Regions from separate parts of the Homo sapiens genome. Here region 1 is linked to region 2. The links come from fine-mapping of genetic effects on gene expression. A gene starts in region 2. The other region holds a variant in brackets. All regions are shown on one strand. Distances are between the middles of the regions.

Region 1 (2,911 bases), 250 kb after region 2:
AAGGTGAAAAGCTTTGTGTCCCCTCCCAAAATATGGACAGTTGCACACAGCATAAGAAAACAATGTTCATGTTCCCCTGTCTTCGTCCCTCCATCAAAAATACAAAATAATAAATGATGTTTAATTTTAATGTCTAATTCAAAACAAAATTTAAATGCACTTTTTCTAACCATCCCAGACAAGTATTCAAGTAATATGTGCCTCCCCTGTCAGGATAGCCTGTCTTGGGGCTCTCACCTTCTGCCCTTAGTACAAGAGATGAGAATGGCAGGCCAAGGTGTCCTGGGAGTAATTCATCCCTGAGTGACAGCTGGTGCTGTCAAGAGTCGTTATTGCTGGTGCGCACAGACCTTCTGGCAAAGCCAGGCGAAACACAGAAACTGCAGTCTCCCTGCCCACCTGTCAGCCTCGTCCAGGAACAGCAGAGAAATTTGCTTTTCTTCCTTCAAAGGGTCCAGCAAGCCCTAGCACCCTTATTAATGCATGCCTCTTCAGTCCCAGCCTGCCTCCCTACCCTCCCTGAACACAGACTTCCCAACCTATTCTTCCAAGAAGGGGATTAGCTCAATTAATCTCTGGACAAATGTCAAGGAGTCTGGGGGAGGGGGCACCTTTCAAGTGCCGCGCCCCAAATAGCAAATAAAGCCAGACATGCGCTGAGGCCACACCGCACAAGGGTGAGCTGCAGCAGCTGCCAACAGGATAGACCGAGTCCTTTTAATGTCAGGCTTAGCTTCCCAGGGGCTCACTTTCTTGCCAGCCTGTTCTGACAGACCACAAGCACCAGGCTCTCAAGTTCTCCTCTCACCGTCTGGGACGGGGGTAGTCGCAGGAAAGCTGCTTCGGGATCAGAATCCATTTTTGAGGCAAACGTTGCTCTCCTCTCATCTCCTGTGTTGCTGCCTTCTGTGCTTGCCCTCTCCTCTCTGGGCCCACCTGCCTCCCCCACCTTCAAAGGGCAGGCACTCCCCTCCAAAGCATGGTTAAAAAAAGATAGTTCCTAGGTTCAGAGTAAGGAAACCAAGTAGGCAAAAAAGCCACAGGGAGAAAAGCCAGGAATGGGTGGGAGTGGAGGAAATTCTCATTATCTAAACACAAAATTATTTTCCCCCAACCATAAGTTTCATCAACCTGATCCACAGAATTTTGGGAAAAGCCCTGAGAGTGCTTTCTCTTTGATCTAATTCCCAGAAAGACTTCATTCAATCCATCCAAGGGAGTGACTGAACTGGTAATAATTCTCTAGAATAGAGATTTCCCAATTGCTCTATGCTCATTCCAATTTTTTCATTTGTAAGGTATTTTCTATTAGTTTAATCCTTCTCTGTCTCTTTCTCCCTTCCTCTTCCTTTTCCCCTCTCTCCCTCTCCCCCTCTCTCTCCTTAGCCAGCAAAATCTGGCCTAACCAGCAGGCTATTAAACAGCACTTCCACATGCTACAGTCCAATGATT[T/C]GGTAATTAATTTTCATAATGATGATCTGGAAGGATTTCTACAGCCTCTTGAAAGATCCAAGAAAATATATACCCTACTGGTTATACATATGCTTTGAGTGTGAGAGGTAGCCTGGGTGTCCAGTTCTGGTGGTGTCATTTACTAGCTGTGTGGCCTCGGGCACGTTACTTAACCTCTCTGCCTATTACCATTTCCTCATCTGTGATACGAGGATACAAAGTTTATTAAGAAAGATAGCAGTTAACACTCTAGTTATGAAATATGTCCTATGAACCAGACACTATGCCAATTGATTTGCCTGAATTATTTTATTTAACCCTCACAACAACTGCTGAGTCAATATTAAGGGGATTTCATCACAGTCTCATTTGTTCAATATTAGCAATACACATATTGTACCTATGGTGACTATAAACCAGAATATCTAATTAATGTAAACATCTCATTTCCTCACTAGAAGAAGACACAGGCAGTCTACTTCAATTATTATCCAAAGCTCTTCTGTTCAGATGCGCTTTTGAATTCAGAAAATTTTTGGACTTTAGAAAGACAATATGGTTCATATAACAAACAGAACACACTGGTCTGGGGCAGCATCCTGTAACTGAACGCATTAACATTTCTGCTCTGAAACATGAATCTTCTCCCTAAAGAGAACAACACAGAGCTTCCTGTCATCTCAAAACAGGTTTTGTTACCAAAAGTCATTCAGAACAGGTAGTTTTACCATCAAATAAGTTAGAAAAGAAAAAAATAAATAAACTTAGGCTATTGTTTGTATTTCAAAATTTCAGATAGGACATTGTGAACTTTATTACACAAAAGCACTAAATAAAGAATCAAGATTCTAGTCCTGGCTCTAGTAGTAACCGCTGTGTAATTGTGGGCAAATTGCCAAGGTGCTCTGGTTTCAGATTCTTCATCTACAAAATAGGTGACTACTACTTTCTCCTAAGTTATACAGAAGTAGCTGTGAAGATCAAATGAGATAGAATTCATCAAAGTATTTTGAATAAGTGAAGTGTTTACCAAATTCAAGCTGTTTATTATCTTTTAAAATGATTTTTTCAATGATTATAGATTTAATTATGCACTACTGCTTCTTGTTTGAATGGCACAGTGTTGCTTACATGGGAAAAGATTCCCCAATTAAATCTCCTTTTTGCATGTATCACTGCTGTTGTTTCTTATACATCAATAAAGATCAGCAAATACATGATGACTGCACTACTGAAATATTTCTCTGGGTTAAACTACAAGAATCACCTCTAGGAAATAATGATAAGCTGCTGTGTCAAATCACTGCAGTTACTGAATACCTGAAAGACCATTTTTTTGTTTTGAAGAAGCAAGCTGTTCAAGTGTCAGGTTGATTTTAACCTGATTTTACAACTTCTTAAAAATCTGCTCATGTCTTCCTTTTCTGGGCGGTCTATGAAGACAGCATTGGCCTGGGAG
Region 2 (2,911 bases):
GGAGACGCGTTCGGCCCAAACACATACACAAATTTGTGTGCATATTCATCTATATACACCATATCCACCGAATTCATCAGGGAGGATGGACACATCTACATTCCGAAGAGAAAATCGCCGTCTAGACAATCTCCTTGTGTTATCTGCCACACTTGTGCCACCCTCGGCAGTGTCAGAGGATTAAGCTACGTTGCTTTTGCCTGAACTGCGCCGATTTGGTTGGGGCAAGACAGCAAGCAGTATTGAAATGGTACGTCCATACACACACACAAAGGCGCGCGCACCCCAGCCCCCGTCTCGCCCTTTTCCCTGGTGCAGCACTTAAGTTGTTTTCACAGCTCCCTTAGAAAGAACCTCCCTTAAGCTGACTGCCCGCGAGGCTCCTAGATACCTCTAGCTCATCTGAGATTCCCCAGGCAGGTGACCCGAGGCGACTCAACTGAGCTCTGGCAAAAGCAAGGCGACTCAGTGTCTCCCAAGTTTGCCAGGTGAACACCGAAGGATGACAGCACATCACCTTGTCGGTGGCGAGTATGTGACTTCTGTTCCCTTGTCCCTTCCTACGAGTCAGACTTTAGATTACATGGCACTGACAACAAAAATAAACAGCTCCCCCTACACACACACGCACACAAAACTGGTCAAGAAGTGGAAGAATCAACCTAGGTATGCACACGAAGGAAAGAAGGGATGAAAAAAATGATGGACGCGATTACAACTCAAGACAAATCCTCAAAAACCACCTATCTCGAGACAGAAGGCCTGGCTGCAGGATCAGGGAGAAAGAGGGAAGGCACAACCCAACCCAACCCAAGCCTGGCCCTGCCCGGGTCCCAGCGGCTCGGCCTCGCACCTGTTGGGGCCGCGGCAGTCCCAGGTACCCGCAGCGGCCGGGCAGGGGCCCTCCCCCGGTCCCGGGCTGTAACTCGGCTCTTGGCGCCCGCGTTCGCGCTCACTCGCCTCGGGATCTCCCGCCGCCTCGGAGCGCACCCGGCAGCCGGTGAAGTCTCTGAGCCCCGCTCGCTCCCCGCGCGGCCCAGGGATCTCCAGGGAGAGCGCAGCGCGCAGTAGGGTCCGGAGTTCCCGCTCCGGGCTGTGGTCCCCCAGCCGGGAGAACAACCCAGCCAGGGAACAACCTACCTGCAGGTGAACTCCGAGTCCTCGGCCTCCCGGCTGCGTGCCGCGCGCCCACAAATGCGACCAAAGGACAGGGAGCTAAAGCGCGCGGGAAGAAGAAAAACAAAATCTGTCTAACCAGTCGGGTTCCTTGTTTATACTGAAACTACGGCAGCCGCCGCCGCGCACGCCCCCCTTGGCTCAGGCGCCTGCCTCCCGCTGCCAGCCCCGCCCCGCCCCGGCAGGCGCGGGCCAATCACCGCGCAGCTCACCGCCCACGCCGCCGCCACCCGGCCCGGCAGGCAAGTCCCAGTGGGCCCCAGACTCCCGCAGCGCGTCAGCCTGGGTGCCCTCCCACGCGGCAGAGGCCCGCGGAGCCCAGCGCAGCGGTGTTTAACAGCGTTGGTCAGGCTGGCTCCGACTGTGCGCGTTTCCTCTTGAGTGCACCTGCCCCGGGCTGTTGTGCAGTCGTGAGTGTGTGTGTGTTCATTCACGTGTATACTATCTGTAAATACCGGCCCGACTCGTTACACAGTATTTATTAACATAATTGTGAGCTAAAGGTTACTGTCCATGTAACTTTCAGAAGAGAGCGGAGAGGAACCACAGAACATTTGCTTAGCAAATAACACATAGATCCTGGTGCTAAGCACTGTGCAAAACGCTGGGGGCACACTTGGCAAAGTAGGCTGGTCTCTGCCATTGTGAAACTTACATAGTCTAGTGGAGGACAGACATTCAGCAAATAATCACCCAAACAAAATGTAGAATTACAGCTGCTAGAAGTTGCACGGAGAGGAACCTGTTCCGTGAAACATGATTCCGGAGGCAAAGCAGGGAGGCTAGTCCTCAGTGAGGGCTGTGTTGTCATGGTAACCACGTACTCACTCCATCATGGGATATTTGATAACTATTTCAGAAAAAAGGTAAAAACCTCCGTACTTCACTTTGTACACATAAAAGGAGGCCAGAGGGAAATAATGATGGAAACAAGGGAAGAAAGAGACCTATGAAAAGAAAAAATTTACAGAATTAGGAGACTCTTACCAACTGTATTTCCTTGAGTAAGTGATACAGCTTTTCTGAGCTTCAGTTTTCTCATATATAAAACAACACTATTCATACCTGTCCTATACTGTTATAATTAAGATTACTGAGGGGGAGGAATCCTTTTCCCTCCTGCTCCATGGGTCCCTCCCCCTCTCCTTCCTGGGGTGGAGTCATTTTGACGCTCACTTTGTCTATTCTTAGCGGATTCCTCTTTCATTTTCTTCATTTATGCCTCCTTTTACTTTTCTTCCTCTTTATGATACTCCTTCCCTCCTTTGTGTAAATAGGACTCCTCTGATTCAGTAATTCACTCTAACCTACTTGAGCCTTTGACTTAACCATAGCTTCTCTGCAGTTTAAATGAGAAGCCATAAGGCCAAGGGAACTTGGTGGGCCAGCCATGCAGAGTGAAACACAGAGGCTGGGTGGCCCTGCCCTGCTGTTGTGGTTGTACTGGTTGGTTGATTTTTCAAGCTCAGTTTTTGCATCCCGATTCTGTAACAAACGAGCCATATGACATTGGGCCAGTCACTTACACCCTTGACATTACTGATCCTGTAGCCAGAAATTAAGAGTTGCAGGGGATTGCTGGCAAGATGGCTGAATAGGAACAGCTCCAGTCTGCAGCTCGTAGCGAGATTCACACAGAAAGCATGTGACTTCTGCATTTCCAACTGAGGTACCCAGTTCATCTCACTGGGACTGGTTGGACAGTGGGTGCAGCCCACGGGGAGTGAGCTGAAGC

The links.
Region 1: its variant is fine-mapped to the expression of RASGEF1B in cerebellum (GTEx, PIP above 0.99). The same link has a PIP of 0.9 or more in cerebellar hemisphere.

The regions. Positions count from the first base shown.
Region 1 is chr4:81,722,048-81,724,958 of GRCh38, forward strand. No RefSeq gene overlaps it. Among named protein-coding and RNA genes, the nearest start is that of RASGEF1B, 250 kb to the left of the region's middle. The variant T/C (reference allele first, on the strand shown) is at 1,453.
Region 2 is chr4:81,470,630-81,473,540 of GRCh38, forward strand. It overlaps RASGEF1B (RasGEF domain family member 1B), which reads right to left and starts at 1,278. Exons shown (of 14, transcript NM_152545.3): 1 at 1,141-1,278. RefSeq lists a silencer at 1,210-1,619.